Regions from separate parts of the Homo sapiens genome. Here region 1 is linked to region 2. Evidence: fine-mapped expression QTL. Tissue or cell type: fibroblasts. Region 2 holds a variant in brackets; the other region holds the start of a gene. All regions are shown on one strand. Distances are from middle to middle. Region 1 holds the start of LRP1B (LDL receptor related protein 1B). Region 2 overlaps LRP1B (LDL receptor related protein 1B).

The links.
Region 1: it holds the start of LRP1B, and the variant in region 2 is fine-mapped to the expression of LRP1B in fibroblasts (GTEx, PIP above 0.99).

Annotation. Positions count from the first base shown.
Region 1 is chr2:142,124,723-142,136,643 of GRCh38, reverse strand. It overlaps LRP1B (LDL receptor related protein 1B), which reads left to right and starts at 5,628. Exons shown (of 91, transcript NM_018557.3): 1 at 5,628-5,996. The coding sequence starts at 5,915. RefSeq lists an enhancer at 4,561-5,760.
Region 2 is chr2:141,494,931-141,506,851 of GRCh38, reverse strand. The region is part of intron 2 of LRP1B (LDL receptor related protein 1B); the gene reads left to right. Among named protein-coding and RNA genes, the nearest start is that of LRP1B, 630 kb to the left of the region's middle. The variant G/A (reference allele first, on the strand shown) is at 5,695.

The DNA of each region.
Region 1 (11,921 bases), 630 kb before region 2:
TATTATCCTTATTGCTATATGCATGGTGCTAAATACAGTGTCTGTCACATAATATATAGATATTTAGTGAATGAATAAATTCATATTCTCTGAGCTACCACTTCTGGGAAGTAAAACAAACAACAACAGCAACAACAACAACAAAAACTAAAAGAATACCAACAAAGCTGACTACATAATACGGGAAGCATTCAAGAAGCTTTATTCAAGGTGTATTTCTGATATTAATAAAATGTGTGACTTCAGACTAGTCACGTTTTCTTTCTCTAAAAATTTTTCATTTGCAAAATACGGTAAATTGGAGTAGATTATTTGAATGCTCCTCCCAGCTCCAACAATCTTAAAGTCTCTAATTATAATTAAGGAGCAGCAAGATGATGACCAGAAAGAAGGTCAGAGATCAATATTCATAGGTAGAAACATGTCACAAGGGCATATTCAGACAAAGTGCATCCTGACCATGTCCACTGACAATCAACCCTCCACCTGATACACTAATTCTATTCTGGGTCTGGAGAAGGCAATGTGGAGCTCGTATTGAACACACATATGTCAGGGTCTAAAAGTACCAAAGCAACATACCTTATAATCAGCAACTGACTTAAAACCCGAGGGCTAATTCCATGTGAGTGGAGTGACAAGGATTTGATGAATTGTTGACATTTTTGTATTACCTACACACGGATGGCAATATTACCAATTGTACCTTCTCTTGACATATCCAAAGAGCAAAATAGGATTTATATCTTCAGACTATATTATTATTATGGATGTCAATCCCTTAAAAAATGAAAAAAATGATATAACCTTTAGTCTTTCAAGTCTTCTGCTGGCTTTGTCTAAATCTGTAGACTCCTTTTATTTTTACTGTCAAAAGTTTATCAAACAAGAGTCAGAAAAAATCCAAATAATCAAATCAGTATTTAAAGCTTATATTGTCTTCTGAAACTTATAATTGCCCTCAGTCATGCTTTTTGCCATAATATTTATGTCTTAAAACATTTACAGATAGTAACAGTAAAGAGAAGCTGAAAATATAAAAAGAGAAGACCAATGTAATTGTCTTGGAAATATTTTTGCTTTCCAGATGTAATTAGATAATTGCATCACTCTTAATTTTCTTTTCAATTGTGCATACCTCCTAATAATTGCTTAATAGTAAAAATTAAAGTTACACCAAAATCTTATTTATCTCAACCAAATCTTTGTATCCTAATTGAGACAGTATGCTGAAAAACAGAACCCACTTTTGAAGAAAAGCGGTTAAAAATGTGCCTTGATCTGTTGCAGTTTGAGAAATAACTTGCATCTAAAGTTTTTTATTTTTCTTAGAGGCTTTGTCCAGAGTAACTCTGTTTCAAGTTAAAGAACTGATGATGTTTCCTTAATAATCCTTTCTCTCTCTCTCTCTACCTCCTCCGCCCCCTGTCTCTCTCAGTCTCTTCCCTTTCTTTTTCATCTTGTGTCTGCTGCTGCCTGGCAACTTTTCTGTCTGGAAAAAGGCAGGGTAAGAAACTTAGCAGGCCTTGCAATGATAGCTGCAGAAATCCTTAGCAACCTAACTTTCAGGCCAACTCTCCTTCACACACATCTCTTCCATGAGACAGACTGTCAGCTCCAGCTTGTTTAGACACACGTCCTCTCCCTAACTTAACGATGTTCAGATGTGTAGCACAAATTGTTACTATCTACAGTAAGAAATCCAATCTCACAAAAATAATTAAGTTAGCAGAAATGAAATGTGATGTTTGATCACATGTATGGAAACTGTGGCTCTAATTGGGAAGTGTAAGATTACCACTGACTGATAATTAGCATTCATGTGTTGTTTTAAAACAAAAAGGAAGAATGATTGGTTCTACTTTGTTTAATTTATCTTAATGAGAGATTTCATAATATTCTATAGTTTGATGAATTAATTTAACTTGTCAGTGTTAATAACTCTGATTAGAATGAATAAATTATAATGGAGCCTAGTAACAAACAAAATTCGAACGCTCACTCAAGCTTTTCCCTCTTCACTAATAGTGCACTTTATTAATTTATTTTTTCATTAAAGCATATATTATGGGGAAACAAAAGTATTTCATAGAAAATTATACTTAAGCTTTTCATTTATTTATGATCCATTAACATTCAATGGTCATTTAAAACCTAGGAGCAAATTATTTAATTTTAAAGCTCAAATTTGGTCTACACTTTTATCAACCTCACTGATGCTCATAGAAACCAATCTTCTTTTATAAACTGGTCATTTTCAAAGAATATCTGGAAGAAGAACCACTTTATATAAGAGATTTGATGTGGGACAGACAATTTTATCCCATTTCATTTTGACACCGGCTTTATTTCAGTTTTGGAGCAAATATATATTTTCTGCTTAATATTTAATCTGTTTATTTCATATTTTGGCTTCTTGGTATGAATCAGTGTCCTTAGTATAAATTTTAGTCTTAAAAACTCTTAACAAGCATTTAAGTTCATGTGTTGTTGTCCACTTAAGTACTGGTGCATACCTAAGCACCTATACTTTCACCAAATTTTTGAGAGAGGTTTTATACCATTTAGATCTTTATTAATCATGGTCTTAAAATAAAGCTTCAATTTTTTTTTTTTTTTTTTTTTTTGAGATGGAGTCTCACTTTGTCCCCTAAGCTGGAGTGCAGTGGCGCGATCTCGGCTCACTGCAACCTCCGCCTCCCAGGTTCAAGCGATTCTCCTGCCTCAGCCTCCTGAGTAGCTGGGACTACCAGTGCATGCCACTACACCCGGCTAATATTTGTATTTTTAGTAGAGACGGGGCTTCGCCATGTTGGCCAGGATTGGTCTCAATCTCCTGACCTCGTGATCCTCCCACCTCATCTTCCCAAAGTGCTAGGATTACAGGTGTGAGCCACTGTGTCCAGCCTAAAGCTGCAAATTTTATTTTATAGATAATACTTCATTAAGATTAATTCACAGTGGAAATTAGGCTTATCATGTTACCTTTTATTGGTGCTCCAGCCTATACTTTAGTAACTAATCTTCCATATTTACTATCACTATTTTATAGTAACTGTTTTGAGTCCTATGTCATTCATGATTACTGACTTAATTGGTGATTACTTAAGAATTCTATTTTGCTTTATTATTCTGGTCACAATGTGCAGACAATGCATTTTTGATTTTTTTCCACTCAATGAAATAAAAAAGTCAACCAGATGATCTAAAAAGATCATATGGTTTTTACTCTGGCTAATTCATTTAACAGGCTATTAGGAGGCTCTACGTATTTGGAATGTTGTATATTTAGAATACAAAATCTCCTGAGTATTTGCTACTCTTATGATCTTTCCTAGCTTTTCCCTTTTCCAAGCTGACCATGGAATCTAGGGCTGCTGCACGTACTACAGAAGTGAATGAGTTAGTGATTTTTAATCATAGCATTGGGGCACTTTAGTATGTGGTAAAAGTCTTTGGTGGGTCATACTGTTCCTGGCTGCTTTCCTTTACTTTGCAGTGAAGTGGAGGGCGATTGGTGGTAATCTTTCAGAAGAGGAAGAATCTGGATGTCCTTAGTATGGTTTGTAAGCACTCCTCATTTTCTTGCCAAGAGTTAAGTGGATACAGATCTCCTAATAGCTGACCTTCTAGTTGACTGAATGGGATCATGTAAGAAAGACACCTGCTACGTTGTCCCAGTGAATAAGTTTGTCATACAATACAGAGGTCTGTGGACCCTCGAGAAAGAAACATTTATTACTTGGCACATCATTCAAATCTCTCTCTGTCTCTCTCTCTCTCTCTCTCACACACACACACACACGCGCGCACACACACATATTCTTTAAACTCTGCCACTCATTTCAAAGTTTGTGAATTTTCAGTATGAAGTAAAATATGTAAAAAAATCTTTTTATTCTATATTGTACACTATATTATGAAATAATAAAAACATCTAGGAAAAATTAGACATGTAACAACTTTAGAAGAAAAGAAGCATACACTTCTCTACTAAAAGTACAAAAAAATTAGCCGGGCATGGTCGTGGGCGCCTGTAGTCCTAGCTACTCCGGAGGCTGAGGCAGGAGAATGGCGTGAACCCGGGAGGTGGAGCTTGCAGTGGGCCGAGATCGCGCCACTGCAATCCAGCCTGGGCAACAGAGAGAGACTCCGTCTCAAAAAAAAAAAAAAAAATTAAGCATACACTTTTGAATGTAGGAGTCATATTTCAAACACAAAATGGTTGTATTTTCAAGGGAAAGTAAACTTTATAATTTAAAACATGGAAAAAGTGACATAAAATACATTTATAATCACAGAGTAAGAATAAAAAGGTGAAATCCACAGATTATTGACAATGTTCTGCAAAGTCATCTCTGTGTTCTTTCATCTAGTCCAGTTTTTAATGGCTTCAAAGGAGCATCTAAAGATATTTCTGGATAATTTTACTCTCATAAATAGGTAGATAGTAATGCTGGCATTCACTTATAAGTCTCAAACAGCAAAGTAAATAAAGCTTTTAAAGCATCTTCCTTCACTTTTCAATCGTTCTCTTCCTTAGTTCTGTTCCCTTCTCATAGTTTTCCTCTCCACTCATGTCCAGTTTCAAAATATTAAATATAAAACCTTTTCAACTCTTGTTCTTAGAAGAGAATTCCTGATGTTACAAGGAAGAAAGTAAGTCTACAACTATTAAGATTTCTGAGTTTTAATTCCGTAGCCACTTTGTAATGGCAAACTAAAATTTTAGGGACTGGGATGATCATGTTGTAAACTTAAGTGGTCATAAAAACAACTTTACTAATATTATTATTCCAGTGATTCCCGTTGATGCCTCCGATGGCTCGGGAAAGTTCTTACACCGCCCCTGTAGTATATGGAAAAGGAAAACAAAACAAAACACAAAACAAAAACAACAAAACCCTCAAAGCCTGTTTAAAATGGCTCGAAGTACCCTTTTAAAGACAGAACCCCAGAGAAAAACGCTGCCAATTCGTTGCTTTATTGTTCCCTGCCTGGGGACCTCAATAGCCTTTTCCATTAACCTTCCCTTCTTACGCAACGGTTAATGACTTTGGGGGTTGTTTTGCTTTCTGTTTCTGCTGAGTCACTAAATTTTGCCTCTTTGTCCCCAGGTGCTGCTCAGCATAAAAGTTAAAAGTGCAATTCAGGAAGTACTGGGATTCTGTGTAGAGCCGAGGAAACCATTTCCCTAAGAGAAGCTCTGTTCCTTGGCTTGTCCTTCCTTCCCGGGAAGGAAGCTTCCGAGGAACGAAGGGAGAAGCTTTGTTTTGCCTGCAGAAGCAGCCCTGTGCTCGGCTGAGGGTTCTCAGCTGGCTGTGAACTGCGGAGCATTGTAGGCGCCTGGCTGGCTCAGGCCAATGCAGAAGTCTCTCCCTTCTCCAAAGACCCAAATCCCCACAGAACCAGCTTCGAGTTACTTTCCCTTCAAGGGGATTAAAATAATTGTGATTTGTGGCGCTCTCCGTTCGCGGTGGTATTTTCCTGTTGTGTTAAATGCCTCTTATTAAGTAATAGATGTGATTTATGTGAACGACGAAGGGGTGTGTGGTGGATTCGGTGATTAATCAGTGAATTCCCATCCGCTGGCATCTCTCACTGCCCCTCTTGCGTGATGTAAGATCAGACGTACCCTGCATTGAAAAGTCAAGACACACGGGCGTCTCGCTCGCGCTCACACACGCTCTGCCTCCTCTCTCCCGCACGCGCGCATCCCTCCACCTTCCACATCCTGCTCCAGGCAGGAGAAGGCTGACTGGCTGGACTCATTGAGCTGAAGAATTTCCAGTGACATTTGTAAATGACGCCGCTCGATTCCAGGCTCCAAGCGGCCCCTGCCGCCGCCGCCGCCGCCGGGCCGAAGGTGCCGCCGAGCAGTCTCCAGCGCAGGCTTCCTTACCGGGCGACCACAATGTCCGAGTTTCTCCTCGCCTTACTCACTCTCTCGGGATTATTGCCGATTGCCAGGGTGCTGACCGTGGGAGCCGACCGAGGTAAGGAGAACACCTCCCCGCTCCCCTCCCCTGACTTCCTTGGCTTTCCTGCTGGGCGATGCTTGCAGATAAGTGAGTGTGAAACTTAAGTCCTTGCAGCTCCGCTCCCCGGGACCGGGTGACCACCGTGCGCTGGCCCTGTGCGGGGGTGAGAGGTGCGGTGCGGGATTTCTGAACCAAGTGCCTGAGTCCTCGGCACCCCCACAGCTTTTCCCTTTGGCCGTTTCCCGGTCCCCATTTTGTCCCCTCCGGGAGTGTGTGCACTTGGCTGTGCGCTTCTGTCCGCGAATTCTAAGCGCTGCAGATGTTGGAATGAGAATTCGCATTTCCGAAAGACTTCCCTCCGCGATGGCCCTCAACTGCGAGCTTTTGCGAGCTCCAGGTTCTCCGCGTTAAGCGTGTCCGCCCTCAACTTAGCTCCCAGGTTAACTTCCTTACCTGCTGCATTCGAGGTCCGTGGAGCGGCGAAAGCGCCGATTCAGGCCCCTTTCGTTTCTATAGCCCCTTCCTGGGGGCAGACTGGGGTCAGAGTCCTGTCATCAGCAGAGAGGCTTTTAGGACGATTCCGGGCGCACGCACCTGCTTGAAATTGACTTTTCGATTATGAGGGTCTGTGACACAGCCCAGGTGCTCTGAGGGGCTAACCCACCCCTGGAGTGCCTCTCTCCAGTCTGGCGCTTTGCTTTTCCTTTTTCTCCAAGCAGCTGGTGAATGGTAGAAGTTTAGAAGGGAATGGATATGGGGAGCAGAGGAGAAAGGAGGTAGGAATTAGAAAAAGCCGGGATTCTATAAACTTTTCATCTGGAAAATCAAGAATCCCTGTGCGAGTTTAATAATCTTTGACAACAGATGCACTGGTGAAAAAGGGAGGAAAATACTAGATGAATATTTGGGGCACTGGCCCTGGCCTTGGAATGGTTAACTGGTTAAAGTAAAATCAGAAGTATCATAGATTTTTTTAAAATCAGAAAATGAGCTTATATTGACTGGTATAGTTCAGCTTTTTAGTTTAAATAAGAGAGAGAGAGAGAGAGAGAGAGAGAGAGAGAGAGAGAGAGAGAGAAAGAGAGAAAGAAACCCAGATCCCAATGCCAAGCAAATAGGCAGAATGTTGCATTGGGAGATTTAGTTATTGTATTTACATGAAGCAGATTATGAATTGACAAAAAATATTGCTTCATTATAGGAAAGAACAGGGGAATGAACTGCAGTGTTTCTATTCAACCTGCTGTTGGCAGCCAGATTCTAGCCTTTGTAACATACCTACACGTGTTATTTCCTCTACCAGTGGTGGGACTAATCTGAGTTCCTTTAGGAAATCTGACACTTATTGGTGATAATCTTTTAAGCATATCATTGCCACCTAACCATAGCTTCTGAACTTGCTCAACTTGCCTTGAAGTTGGTGTGGAATGGTTGGAAACTATACTGATGAAATGGAAGCACATAGCTCGCCTTGAAATGATGATGTCTTTGATCTGGAACAATCAGCTCTCAACCTTTCTTAGGAAAAATGTTTGAAGTTGGACCAGAGCAGATGAACAGAATGGAGATTTTCAGCCCAGTATGCTAGCAAAATATAATGGTACTGGCAGACTACTGCTATTGGGCTCTTCCTGATTGAGTCTCCAATCTCCAGAAATTTGACTTCATCTAAAGCTGAGTTCTCAATGCTTTTGTATACATTTATGAGGATAGAACTACTGCTACCATGATTGGAGTAAATATCTGAAGAGAATTTTGTATAGAACATAAAAAATACAGACCCCACAACTTTCTTCTGAGATAGAATATTAAATAACTAAGAGGATTATATTTGGTGCCAATTTAGTTTCATGAGGGAGAGGAACATCTAAGATAGAAGCAGAGCACATGGTAAACGATTGCTAGTTTTTTTCTAAAAAATGAAATAGTGTCGTGTTGTATCACCACGTCCACATGAAGTACTATATCAGATAGCACAAGTAAAAATAATTGTAGACCAGCACTTTGCCACTATTATATATTTAACACACTTTCAAAACTGTTAGCAAAGAGCTAAAATTCTCACAGTTACCAAAAGTGAAAAGGATGGGCCCCATTTGGAAAAAGGAATTTTAAAGAGAGAAATCTTGTTGAAAGTTAAGAAAGAAAGTGTTACTGCATTATGACAAGCTTCCCTCACTAATATGCTGAAACAGAAGATATGGGAATATAAACTCAAGAAAGAGGTTAATGAGATGTAACTTTCTGCACAGGCTTATGTCAATCGTCCTTGAATAACAGAACAGGCATGTGAATTATACAGATGCGTTTTGTAGTGCAAGAGCTAACTGCTTGACAAAAAATGAGAATTCACATTTAGGTTCTACGTGTACTTATTGTGTAATAGGTAGCTTCTCAAACTGTATGAACTATATCAGAAGTGTTTGTATTACCTTCTAGCTGTGTTTTTCCTTTATACATTCATAAGTTCAAACATTGTATTAAATAGAACAAGGCTTGAAACTAACTCGTATGTTTATGTTCAAACCATATACGTGCACTTGTCTTTTAATTCCTTATTGTTTATTTTATTAGTTTATATTGATTCTATATAGAGCTAAACTAATGTACATGTAAGTTTTTATTACATTCTATCACATCTTAAAAAGGAAACATCTTTGTAACTCTTAACAGCCAAAATTGGAAGATAAATCAGATTCACTTAGAATCAACTAATTTGTCATATAACAATGTCATATCATATCAAAGTATTGCTTGATAAGGATTAAAACTTAAAAGGAAGTATATCTTAAAGTGTCAAATTTTCTGAAAAGGGATTGAGAGGCCTAATGCTAGTCTGTGTTAAATTCTCGAGTATGATACAATGTGGAGACACATTTCCAAATAATTAAAGTTCATGCTGTTATAGTCATTTTAATGTATCTGTATAGAAAACCATCAAACAATGGCAATTAAATGTATATCAAAATTTTAATCTCCCCTCAAAGAAGAATGAACTGCGATTTATGTCTCTTCATATGCCACAAATAACATTAAAGTTTTGTTTTGAAGAGGTTGCTAATCTTTGAATTTGTTCTCTTTCTCTCTTCTCAAGCTCAAATTTAAACTGAGTGAGAGAGAAAAGAGAAAATGGAAAAGGTAAAGAAAGAATTTAAATGTGCTAAAACAATAAGAAAGAATGTGAATTGCAGAAAACAGAATTCAGGAGGAAAAATGGAGTTAAGAGAAAGCTGAAGATAAATTTAGGAAAAAGATGAATGGATGGATGGATGGATGGATGGATGGATGGATGGATTCTGCCATACATCAGAATCTGAATCAGTATTTCTTGAATAGGTTAAAATATCTTTAGACAAAATAATTTCTTAAAATGTTTTTATCTCATTATTAAAAACATTATATGAAAATATTTACAGTATAAAAATAATTTAAGGAAAGTGCCACCAGTGTGAATCTGAATATAATTAGACCTCTAAGAATGGAGAGAGACATGAGAATATTGCAGAAAAATTAAATATTAACTGTGCTAGAATTACAAATATGGAAGTGATTTTTTAAAAATGTAAGTGAAGGTAAAGGAAATTTTCTTAGAAAGGGTGCTAGATGAGTGATATGGTTAATGTATTCTTAGGACTTAGATGACACTTTCTAAATGCTGCTTGTTTTTCAAGGTGGAGGTATGCAGAAATACTTAGTTTGCAAATCTATTGGATCCAGGACATTAGTTTCTTGCCAGTTACCTTGTCAATTTCTTTTCTCAGCCCAGGGGATACCATAAAAATCAGCTCCATTTAAAGTCACCTGAACTGAACAGGACTTGGTCTTCTACAAGGATTATGATGTTGAGGGAACTTTATGTCTTTTCTCCATTCTATATATGGATCCAGTTTTTTATGTTTCTGCCATTAATTTTTGTATCTTAATGTGAAATGTGCAACTCTCCCTCCCTTTCCTTCAGCATTTTCCTGGTTATAGGAATTCTGTGTAGTAAAAAGTACCAATCAAACATACTGATAGATTTCTCTATCTTCTGTGGCTGTCTGTCAAAACAATTCTTGTACAAAGGAAACACTTGTCTTCATTCTAGATAGATGCATTCAAAGAAAGTAGAATTAATCCTAAAAGTTAAACATGCCTGTGCCAACATGATATCATTCGTCAAACTAAGTTAGTAGTAAGTGGAACCCAACTATACAATTGCCCCCAACCCCGTTTTTAATCTCTCTCTGTGTGTGTTTATGTGTGTCTGTATATCTGCTTTAAAATGGCTTTCCTTGGCACAAACGCCATTAAAAATACCACTCTGGCTTGAAAATTGGTGATGGTTTTTATGAATGAAACTTTTGCTTTTGAAAACTCCAGATAAACATGTCTATTTATCTGGACAAAAAAAAAAGTGAAATGAAAAAAATTTTAAGTTATTTTTTGACTCATAGCATATAATATTCTAATACATTTCGATATAACAAGTATTTTGTTTTAACAGAATCTGACTGTGTGGCAGAAACACGTGTCAAAATTATCTGCTTTTGAAATGAATATAATTATGGTATACCCAATGCTTATAATTTGAAGCAATACATTTAGTAGCAGAATGCTAAAGAAAATAAAGCCAAAGACTGAGTTCCATTATGAATTAATCAGAATATATGCTCAGCCAAACTCCTATGAGAAAATATCTATGTCTACCTTAGATAGTTTTAAAACTTTTCTTAAATTTCTTCAAGAAACCTGGCTTCCCCCATATAATCCAAGAATAATGACCAAAACTATCTTGATGCATAGAAAGGTCAAATAAGAAGGTTTTTCTTTTGGTTTTGGCAGAGGAGGGGGGAGAGTAGGGAAAATTAGCTAATCAAACAGAAAAATGTCAAGGGATGCTTTTTATTTTCTTCTGTGGAGTTGCTATACATTTTCACATGGATAGCTATTCCCAAATTTAACCTGTGTCACAAACCATTGTCTAGAGACATAGAAATGAAATTGCAACAGAGCAATCACAAATTGTATAGTCTATAGGCCTTGGGAACATTCTCCAGTTATTTTATTTTGGATGGAGATTTTTAAAACTTATTAGTTTTTTGGGATAAAATATTATTTAAACAGTAAATAAGACAAAAAATGAAAATATCTCTAAAAATAATTTGAGTTTTTAAAAGTTGGTTTTTGGACTAATTTCCATATGTGAGTTCCACTGGCACAGAATGAGTGTCTTTACCTCACTCACTCAATTTTGAAAAGTATTATACTTGCAATAGTATTGAATCTCTGTTCTGGCTCTTCAGTCCTCTCTCATTTGAATAACATGTCAATCTCACCAAGTACATATGAACCCTCTATTTTAGAGAAAGGAGAATGAAGGATTCAGGAGATTCTGCCATTCAGCACAACAAGTAAGCTTACATCTTCCAAATGTATATGCTGTTTTTTTTCTGTTTGTCTTCTATAATCTGCCCTCACAATTTTAAATCTATATTTTCCTCTTCATAAATGATCAGATGGCCTCCCTTTTTCCCCTGGCATAATTACAAGGCCAAGTTAGAAAGTATGTATTATGTATTGCTCTGTTCTAAATTGAGTGATATTAAAATGTAGAGTCAGTCTCACTCTCTCCATCTCTCTTTCTCTCCATCCTTTCTATTTAGGCTATCTCTATACAAGCCCACATATTTTGACTGAGCTCCCTGACTAAACCAATTGATGAAACTGACTAGTAACTAAATGGAAATCAAAACTATTAAATAATAGCCATACATCCTGTAAAAAAAAAAAGTAAGACTGGTCTTGCAGGAAAAGCCTAAATTGAGATTCTATGAAGAAACAATAACAACAACATATTTCCCTGAAAGAATTATGCAACATATTTCTAGTTTGCAGAGCAAATCATATGTGCTTTTGCTGTTGTGTCTCTCATACTAGGCAAATGAAATATTTTTGGTA
Region 2 (11,921 bases):
TACTATACTTAAAAATTTATAATATTTTTTTCCCAAGGGCACTTTTTAATAACATAAAAAACACAAGAAATATTTAGACTTTAAAGGATATTTTGAGAAGTAAATTTTTTTTTTCTGTTGTATATAGCCGTCCAAAAGTGCAATTTGTATAGTGTATAACATATCTATATTATAACATACTAATACAAAGAGCCCGAAAGAGTAGACTACTTTATAAAAATTGTCTGGCTAGATTGAAGCTAGGTGCCCACATCCTATACAGCCTGTCATTAACTCTTCCCGTAATGTAACAGTGGAGTGATAAATAATGCTAGTAGACACTTTCATGTGAAGATTAACAGTCATTAAAGATGTAAATACAGTAGAATGTTACACTAGTGCACGTATAAGCCACTCTAATTGCATAGGTAATTAACACTTCTGTTGTTTTTCTCATTATCATTTTGTTCCAGTTGAAATGCTTGTTAGCAACCTACTCTGTAGAAGGAACAGATAGCATGTCATTATAACAGTTGACACAAGGCAGCCTTCAAGTATGTGACACTAATTAAATTAAAACTTCAAATTACAAACAGACTTCTTATAACTAATGATGAATGACCATTTTCACGAAACAATATTCACTTCTTTATTCAAGAGTCACAAGTGTTGCTTTTAATATGTTGTATTAAATCACAAAGAAATCCATTAACAAAGCTGTTATGTCTGTCTTTCCAATGGAAAGAATGTTAACATTTTGAGGCTTTTCTGCAGACTAAGGGAGTTTTCTCCTCTCGTTTGTCTAATGACAAATGATTAGGAATTTCTATCCCTAACAGGGTTGTCACACTTCTCAACAGCTGGGTTACGAGGCAGTCTTTCCCGGACAGGGAAATGTTCTAGAAGTCTGGAAATTACTATTCTCTTTTAACTAATGACAGTGGTTGGTGCATAAAGAATGGTCAATAAATTGTATCAGTATATTCTGAAGCTGATAAGATGTCCAGAAAAGGCTTCTTGAGACTATACCACTTTGACATAGTTAGAACATTCAGATAATTTACAAGAGTTAATTAGGAATCAACCCTAAAGCAATCTTAATGGAGATTGGCCTACCAAGCAGAATGTGTTACTAAGTCTCAGAAAACAAATACAAACTATATTATTTGCTTCATCTGATTAGAATATTTTGTCCATTTCAAAAGCTTACTTTATAACTAGGTAACTAAAAGACAATTAAAATTTTAGTTAGTGAGGACAAAATTATAGTAACAGGTATATGTTGAATAATTTTAACAGTCTCTTATAAAGAGAAGAGGTCTATTGCAATATTTTTCAATTCATAGATTTCAGTCCACAGCTTCATTGTGAAAATTTCACAGGTACAGTATCAACTTTGGCCCATATGTGTAATATAGTTTTCTTGCATATTATAACAAGTGAGTATACATACTGTTACAGCAATGGATGCCAGAAGTATGTGTGTGTTGAACAGGACTTAAAATGTGCTATTTACTCTGAGAAAGACGAGGCCCTAGAGGCCTGGTATGATATCCGAGTTGCAACAAAAGATTTGCTGAGACTTACAAATATTTGCCTCTGAATATATGAAGAAATGGTTACAGGGAGCAGGAGATCAAAGAATATGTGATAACCATTGGAGCTTTTATAGACTCTGAGAAGTGCTGTTATACTGTATCAGTATAATAGAAATGACTTTACCTAAATTATTGAGGGGAGGGGAAGAGAGAGAGGGGGAGAGAGAGAGATAGAGAGAGAGAGGAGGGATTTATTCTTCTCAAACAAAGCAATAATAAATGTATTATTCAAAATTGTGATACTAATACAAGTAAGTTTAAACCTTTGATCTAATGTAACACTGTCCAGTAAAACTTTCTGTGAGGATGGAAATGTCCTATCTTTCAAATATGTTAGCCATTAGGCACATTCAACTATTGATCACTAGAAATGTGGCTAGTGAGACTGAAGAACTAAGTCTTTAATTTTATTTCACTCATTTGAATTTCACTTACTTAATTTTAATTTACACTCATTTGAATTAATTAAAATCTAATGCAATTAATATGAATTTTAATTTAGCCATATGTGACTAGCAGCTACCAAATCTAGCCCTTACACAGGTTTAAGACATCCACCTCCATTGTAAGAACTCAATCCCTTGAGTTCCAGAGTGTTCTTGATCCTTTGGTGATTACAACCTGGACAGATTATTGCTCCTTGGGCACCCACATTGTAGATTTCTTGCTATCTTCCATCTGGTAATGTGTTGTTTCTGCAGACAAGTTACAGTTAGCTTATTTACTGACTTAAACTTATTATAGGTTTGTTCCTTGGTTGGAATTCCCATTTTCAAACTATCACTTAGTATGAGTTATTTCTGAACATAAATGATTTCATCAATTAGCATATGGGCATTTTTTTAAGTGGAGTCATTTCTCTCATCCTCTGCTTTCCTGGGATCTATCTACAAGCCGAAGTTGTAAATCAATTACATAGTAAATAAGGCCTTACTGAATTAATTTGTGAATATTTAATGATTACTTAATATTTTTCATCCCTATACTAGCCACTAGTAATCCAAAATTATTAAGACATCATCCTGCCCTTGGAGAACTTACAGTCTTTAAGTGCCACAGCACTATAAATAAGCCAATTCATCTTCGAAAGCAGGCTTAATTAATATGAAACCTCTGGAGAATTCATCTACAAAAAATACGAGTGTGTCAGCAAGCAGAAATTATTTATCACACAATATCCCTCCTTTGGACATGTGAGTAACCACAACCATTATTAATGTATTAGATAGTATTTGGAGGTGGCAGAAATCCAATAGCCTAAATCGTTTCCAAGGTAGCTTTCGGAGTTAGCCTTGTAAAATAATTAAAATTCTAATTTATTCCTGTGTACACATGGAGTAAAATACTTAGTGTTAAGATCTGCCTGAATGCTTAAATATATTAAGGAGTGCTCTGTTGTGTTTATTAGTTGTTTCTCTTTTCAAAGTTTTCAACATGGCAAAGTTTGCCTTAATTATATTTAAACAAGAGTGCCTTAACATATTCTCTCTCTCACCCCTTACAATCTTTTGACATACCTAGTTCTCCAGTTTTGTGTATTAGTATGAAGAAGAAAAGTGAATTAAAAGATGTATTCATATTATGATGTTAATGAGTTCCAGGATGTGATATTTTAGAAGAAGCATGAGTAGGAATTGGGAGAGAGGGAGGGTTTTTCTGGCACACTGCAAATTATACAGATAGAAGGAGGACATAATTATGAATACAGCCAGTATTTTACTTGCATTACTTCTACATTCTATGTACAGGTAGAATGGTCATACATAACTGCAGTATTATTATTTTGGCTACGTATAATGTAACAGATTTTAATTTAGACTTGGCAATTGATATTTGACTCTCAGATTTCTTATTCTTATATCACCAACGGTTGGAAACTGTTGGAAATAAGTGGAATATCAGAAGTAGTTAGGGAAAACTTTATCAACTGGGTCCAGGTTTCCTGGAAATATATATATTTCCTCTACTCTAATATATATATAAAAATAATTGTATATTATGGTATTATATATTATTATATATTATATTATATATTGTATTGTATATTGTATATCTTATATATAGTCATAATAAAGTAAATTCATGTTTACTTTATTATATTATTCATGTATTACTCATATATAATTATATATTATTTTTTATATAGTCCTAATAAAGTAAACTCATATTTTCTTTGAGATAAAAGTGACAATTGAAATTCTTCTATTTATATGTATCTAATAATTTGGATTCAAGCAAATCATTGGTGTGGTCAGTCCATTTTTACATTACAACCTTTAATGTGCAAAATAGCCTTAGAGATTTAAAAATTGATTTAAAACTTAACTTGAATATAATTACAACCTTCATGACTTTAAAACTTATATATCCTAGCTGTCTTATTTTTAATTTTTATTTTTATTTATTTTTTATTTTTTGAGACGGGGTCTCCCTCTGCCACCAGGCTGCAGTACAGTGGCACAATCTTGGCTCACTACAACCTCCGCCTCCCGGGTTCAACCAATTCTCCTGCCTCAGCCTCCTGAGTAGCTGGGACTACAGGAACGTGGCACCATGCCCAGCTAATTTTTGTGTTTTTAGTAGAGACGGGGTTTCACCATGTTGGCCAGGATGGTCTCGATCTCTTCACCTCGTGATCCGCCCACCTCAGCCTCCCAAAGTGCTGGGATTACAGGCATGAGCCACTGCGCCCAGCCAGCTGTCCTAGTTTTTAAACAATGATACTGAAACAGTTTCCCATAGGCTAAATTTTTTTCTTGAGTGTTTCTTCAACTATCTATCTATTCCCATGAGATCGTAACCTTTTATTTTAAATCAAGTAATTTTGTTAGGTCTCAAGTATGCTGGAATCTTTTGATTAAAAAAATGAAGGTTAAATACAAATATTCATGAGCAAACAAATTCCTCAACCTTAATGGATTTCACCATTTAGTTCAAGGTGACCAGGATATTAGATTATCAGCCTTGTTATATCAAATATAGCTAAACTATTTGTCTTCCCCTTGGGGAAAATCCTAAAAATATTCTCTTGTCCCCACATTTCATTACTTCAGAAGGATATTGATTCTTACAGAATATTTGAATGAAAAATCCTGAAACTGTTGTTTCATTTCATAAAGTTAATGAGTATTTCGAAATGGACTCCCCAGCTAGGCAGTTGCACTACTAGACAAGATTTAAACACAACTCAATCTTATATTTGTTTGGGGGGAGTGTTCAGATATTTAAAAGTATTTCCCATCTGTTGTTACATTTTATGCTCACAGCTGGGTTAGACTTTGAGGTTAGATCATGAGGTTAGGCTGGTGCCTCCCTCCACAGTGCCTTCTTTTCAACATTTGACAGACAGGAAAAAAAAAAGCCATAGTTGTTTCAGTCACTTTCTCAGTCATACTGTTAGAGAATGCCAGACTCAAGCCTGAGCATCTGACATCAGTTCTATAGCAATTTCTCTTAATCTACCAACCAAATAATATGCTGTAGCTACAGCCAAATTTTTCCAAAAATTGTAACTTTCTATGTCAATCTCTACAATGCATGTTTCTTTTAGATCTTTGCTACAACTACATCATGAATACATCCCATATGGTTGTTAATTACAGTATATAGCTTCATTTGTATAGAGCAGCTTACCACTGATCTCAAGGCTAACTTTGCAGAAAACCAAGTTATCACCACTGCAACTTCAACAACAATAACAAAATGTTGTAACTTCCCTCCTCTAATTATTTTGTAATTAACTTCAAAGTCTAAAATGACTTAATTATACTGTAGTATAAGCCAGAATCAGTGACAACTTCTTGATTGGACACTGGAAGCTATTTACAGGCTGCTGTATTTTCTTTTCATGTAGTATACTATGATTTCTCCTTTTAGGCACTTGGAATTCATAAAAAGAAGATGTTTTTGAACTTTAATTCTCCAGAATCTCATATTATGGGACTCATGGAGCCATTTTATGATACTTATGTTCTTGAGGTATACCACATACACCTATTTTCTAGCTTGAATTTATTAGTGTATTATAATTCAAAATAAAGTATACATAAAATAAAATTTGTGAAATTTACATAATTCATCAAAGTCAAAGAAGATGAAAGTTTCTTAAGTGAGAAAG[G/A]AATACTTCTCTATAAATAAAGGCACAAAGTGAATTATCATTATTGTTCAACTTTGCAAGAAGTCCTATTATATTTAGAAGATTTTTCAAGATATATATGTTTTTGTTGTTTGAAAATGATGGTCTGCTTTAGAGTGAATGATTAAATTGTTTTACATAAGTATATCATCTAAAAGAAATGGGAAAAATGACCAAGAGAAGGGCAAACAATGAAAAAAATCAAAGGATACATGAAGAAAATAGAAGTACTCAGAATCCTGTTGTCAGAAATAACTGTGGCAATGATCTTGTTTATTTCTAAAGCAATAGAGGAGTTGCCTCTAGATCATCCCAAAGGATCAGACACCCTTTGCTAGAATTTATCTGTAAACAGTAAATTCATGAGACTATGTCCTTGTTATATACACCTAGTTCTCAGCAAGTGTTATCTATATGGATGAAAAAACTGCTTTCTTTTGAAATCCAAGAGGAACCACTGACCGAATCCCTCTTTCATTGTGAAACTTTCATATACTTTAATTTGCCATAATATTCCTTCTATAGTTTATCTTCCTGAGACAAATATTTCTGAATTTTTAAATCATTGACTTACCATATAATTCCCAGACTCCATCCATTTTATTTCCCTTTTATAGAATGAGAAACCTTTGTTGATTTTTTAAACATATGGTACCTAGTACTATGTAGGTAAGAAAAACCTGTTCTGCGCTCTTTAGCTTAGTAACCGGGGCCTGCAAATTAAAGTGACAAAACACAGATCAACAGGAGAAAGGTTTATTTTCGTATGCACACAGGAGCTTCACAGAAAAGAAGTGAAAGTCCAAAGTAGTGGCTAGGTTTGAGAGCTTACATATCATTTTAACAAAGGCTGATAAATTGTGGAGATGTGACAAGACAAAGCAAAGGGATTTGGGCTTACAGGGATGGTAAATTGTGGGAAGGTAAATATATGGGGAAAGCTAATGGAAGACAAGGGTTATTTTACTAACATTTGTTATTCAGACTCAAATAGGCTCCCTCTCCAGTGATGCACTGTCTTCAGTAAGACATCCCCCTCTTCCTAATACAGGAGAAAAGAGCAGAAACACCTTCACAAAGAAAAATGTATGCTCTGCTTTTAGGCAGAAAAAGGGAAGGAAGATAGTTCCTCCCATATCTGCTGTTCCTTAATTGCCTTTAGCTCAAAGTAATCCTTATGTCAAAGTGGCATCTTTGGGGGTAGAATATTCTGATCCCCTTCAACTCTAAATGTGTTCTAAAAAAAAGAAGTAACTTCATTTTCCTTGGTAATAAACAAATTCAAGATTTGATATACAAATTTGCATCTATTAAGGAAACCTGATGCCGAATACTAACACAAATCCTATATATTTTATTTTTTTATTTCAAATTAAAACTTTACATTATTCTTTGTTAATTTTCTTTTTTATTTGCCAATCATGTCAGCTTAAAAATGTCATACTTTAATATTCCATATATTAACTATGTTTTCAATCTTCATTCACTTGGAAATTTTTAAAATGTGACATCTGAGTCTTCATTTAAATAACTGATGATTATGACATGTTGCACAGAACCCAGTCCTGTCTCTCTCTATAGGAACATAAAGAACCTTCCAAAGAGGATGTGGAAAGAGTTAAAACAAACAAACAAACTAAAACTCAAAGCAAAACAAATATATCCAAGCAGGATTTGAGAGATCATACACAGGATACAAAGCGAAAAGAACCAGACAGGGCCAATGTGAACAAGTAAGAGGCGTAGGTATTACCGGAAGGAAGCGATGTTACTCTGTCATATAGTTACATGGGCAGTGGATCGTTGTGAATAACTGTGTGGACCCTGAAGATAAAAATCCTAAGTTTAGATTCTGACTTCCCAAAATAACCGCTGTGACATTGCACAAGACAGTTATCTCTGGGTCTCTATTTCTGCACCTGTAAAATGAAAATAACAAGTGTGACTCTTAAGATTGGTCAGAAGACTGAGTTAGTTAATAAGCCTAAAAAAGCTTAGAACACAGCCTGATATATGGGCATTATTAAATACATGTTAACCACATTATTAACAAGGGAAGGCCTTTCTTCTGAATTTAACAATGAATTCTCTTCTGTAGTTTCTCAGATCAGAGTAGAGACATTAATTCATGAGAGAAGACATTGCTGAAAATGAAATCTATTTATGTACTGACCACCTTATTCTGAGGAAATGATACCCTGGATGGAACAGATTGGGTGTCGTTATTTGCCTATCTAAGCAAGGATGACTTTGTAGAAGCCCTCACTGAATTTTAGAGATATTCACAACAGAAACACATACAATAGATTTCCTACTCAAAGATAGAAAGCATGCAGAGAATGTCTGTGGCAGAGATTCACCACACAAATATGGAAGTGTGCAGAGGTAGTTTCTTTCCATCATAGTTTCCCTGGAATGACTGAAAAGATATGAGCCATTATGCAGTTGTTCCAAATGCTAGCCAAGAAGCAGCTCCTTTGCAGGATGGGGGCTGGGGGAGTGGGGATGATTTAGATACTTTTTTAAGGGACTGGATTTCTGGTAAAAATGTATTTTTCCAGCAGTTTTACTGATGCCATAATAGATCGTGAACATTATAAAAGGGTACCATTGCGAAAAGTTATTTTACCAGGTAGGAAACTTGCAAGAGGATTTATATTTCAAAATGACAGTGTCCTAAAACTCACATTTAAAAAAAATGTCTTGAAGAGAACAGGTCCAGAATTGTAGCCTATGGAACTATATTGCTCAGAACCTTAGCCAAAAAAGAAAAAAAAAAAAAAGGATTTTAAAGATGTTGTCTGGGACTTTTACTCCTCAGTAGAACTTTGTACATAGTACAAGGTGTTAGAGTGTTGTAGATGAAGGAGTTCATTTCAGACCACCAAAGTCTTCCTGTTTTTTGTTTGTTTGGTTTTGTTTAAAAATGTGTATTACTCCACTAGTCCTTTTCAGCAACTAAACAATTTCATGCCTATATTTTATTAGGGTCATAAATTAGTTTTCTATACTTTATAGTATCTTAGCATCAAATACTAATGTTATATAGGTACATTTGCTCCTGAGATACTCAAGTTTTTAATGTTATAAAACCAAAAATTTCAAGTATTTAGAGATGTACTTTTGAAAAGTCACAATATTTAGATACTAACGTTAAGTTTTAGTGGTTCTGCATTTTTTTCGTATGACTGTGTTAGGTTATTTTTACTTTTAGAAACATGTCTTAAAAGATTCAAAATTAATTTATATCCTAAATATAATTTTTTTATTCTCTTATTTTCATAAAAGTTAAAAGTCAGGTTAAATGTCTTTATGATAAAATAAATGTAATTTTTCATTGCCCATTTAAAAAACTCTGCATTTATCAACTTTTTCTTCAGGATTTTGTAATTTATCATCATAGTTTGTTCAGTAGATTTGCGCTAAAGTTCAGGCCTAGTGGACACCTATTCAACTCTTTAAGCATTTTTATAGCTTTTCAATCGTAGGGAAAATTAAAGAGAAGTTTGGCCAAACAGCAAACATCCTGCAGTGCTTATTTGCTTATTTTTCTATCATCGCCTGATTTCTTTATCCTGGACCTTCCTTCCTGTTCTCACTTCACACAAATGTGGTGTAGGAGAAAAAACCCGGTACTTCCTTATTCAGTTATTCTAGGTTATTTTATAGCTGTAAACTAGGACGCCAAGTTGCTACCAGAGGTGTTTTTTGTTTGTTTTCAAGTAGACCCAGATTAGGATCTCTGTTAACAACATAATTAAAAATTGAAGAAAGCATGGTTAGTACATGCAGTGGTAGAGGTGTGAGTAATTGCAGGTAGCAGAGGAGAGAAAATAGTTGCCTCTAAAAAAAGTATTTTGAAATGTCCTTCATGCCAGTTTCCCAGATACATAAACTCTCCACCTCACTTTTCCAGAAGTAAATTTTGAGAAAATAAGGAAACAAATGAAAGTAAGAAGAAAAATAAATTGGGGGATGTCTGTGTGTGCATTTATATATTTCTACTTCTAATATATTTATAATATATGAGAAATTGCAAATAAAGTGGAAGTTGGTCTTCTGCCTTTGTTTTTCTTATGTCACAAGTTCTGACTCATAGCTACTGAGGCTGCTGATCCTTGATGTATGATAATGTGCAGTAAATTGAGAAGTGACTGATAAAATTTGAACCGAGCTGTCAGATATGACATCATATGATCAGATCATTTGTACTTTCATGCTATCAATTCTGTTTCTAAAAACAAACCACAGAAAACAGACTTTTTTCATAATTTCTCGCATTTTATATCTGGTTCTTCTTCTTTTTTCATAATTTCTCACATTTTATATCTGGTTCTTCTTTTCTATTCTTTTCTTCTTCATAACCCATGACATTTTTCTTATTTCTTCTTTGATGATACAAGCAAATTCCTATGTAGTGTTTAGAAGATTTTTACCTGACTATGAATGCATATGCTCTTCCAAAGACAGACTCATTCATAAGAATCTGTGACAGGTCAGCATTTCCAGGATGTGCCAATATATTAATATTCATAAAAAGATGAAAACTAAGTGTGCATGTTCTTCTGTAAGCGACATCGTGTTTAATTCGTGGTTGAATGAAATGAGATGCTCTGTTTAGGAGCTCGATTTCAATGAACGTATTTCCAGAAAATGGGCACTGAGTTTTAAGTCTACTTTTAGGAGGCATTAGAACGTTACACTTTAATTAAAGAGTAGTCTGTGTAGAAGCAGCACCGACATTGCCTGGGAACCTCTAGAAATGCAGAATTTTAATTCCAACAAATATCTACTGAATCATAATCGGCACTTTAAGACCTCTAGGTGATTCAGATGTACATTAAAGTTTGGCATTTTTTTTTTAGAGTGCATAGTATGGCTCTGAATGTGGCATTTACCAAATGTTTATTATGACACATACATACAAATTCAGGAGAGACATAATCCATGAAAATCAGATCAGAGTAGCAAAATGGTGAAATTGTTTAATAATATCAAGGAAGACGAAACCCTTGATGAACTCCAGCATAAAATATCAAAATATCGACATTATTCTAGAATAATTTTAAGCTGTCATATTTGAAGAAGCTTTGAGGTGTATCTTAGTTGTAATAAAATAATATAACAGTGTTTCCATGATAGTTTTACATATAAATAAGCATCCTTAAAGAAATTCCCTGGATTACTCTTTCTGTGTTAAATACTGTGCTATTCTACCATTGCTGTCATTAATCAACTTCATTAGATAATATCATAATGAGAACATAGGTGAAGCTACAAGAAAAATGTTGCAGAGAAGAATTTGTATATTTTCTAGAAGTGACAGATATATATGTGTATATTTATATATTTGTTGCTTATAGGAGAGCATTATTTTTTATTTTACCAAATTATTGTTCGTGTATGTGTGTGTGTGCATGCACTCACATACTCAAATCTTTAAAGGTCAGTCTTCAACGAGGTTTCAATCAGATTCCATGTAGTAAAGGTATTGAATTGACAAATACCTTCTTCAGCATTCTCTTACAGAATAAATAAAATAAACATTAAACTTAAAAGTAAAAATGTGTTCTACTTTTTTGGAATTTTTATTTGCATATACCTGTTCAAACTTCTGTAGAAAAGAACCTTTTCAAGAGTCATGTTATGAATTTAAGGCCAGATTGAAACTGGGTCATGTCTGTTGCCCAGTGCCTGATTTTCCATTCTGTACATTTCTGTTGACCTTTGCTTTTTCTTAACCTTCTTGTTTCAGATCCCGTTGACCATTTTCCTGCTCATTACCATGGGTATGAGTGGTCAGAAAGGGCAGATGAAACAAAAATAAATCAATGACTTTCTTTGCAAATATATCTGAAAGAAGATTTGATGGAGGAGACAAGACTCACTGGAATCTTGCTACAACAGTATTTATCGTAGAGCAGAATTCATTGTAAAGCTGACCAGCTTTGGAGTCCCTCAAACAGGATAGAGTGATGAGGGAAATGTTTACCTAGTGTATTTGCTTGATATGAGTTTCATTTATGTTTCTACCTTTTTTATAGCCTACAACATAGATAACCGGAAAAATCTTTCTATTGTTACAGTTTTGTATTTTTTCCTGAGCCAAGACATTTTCCCAAAGGGGTATTGCAATTATATAAATCATTAGAATTGTCCATAAATGTAAGGAATTCTTCTGTAGTATCTCAATAACAGATATCTTTAGT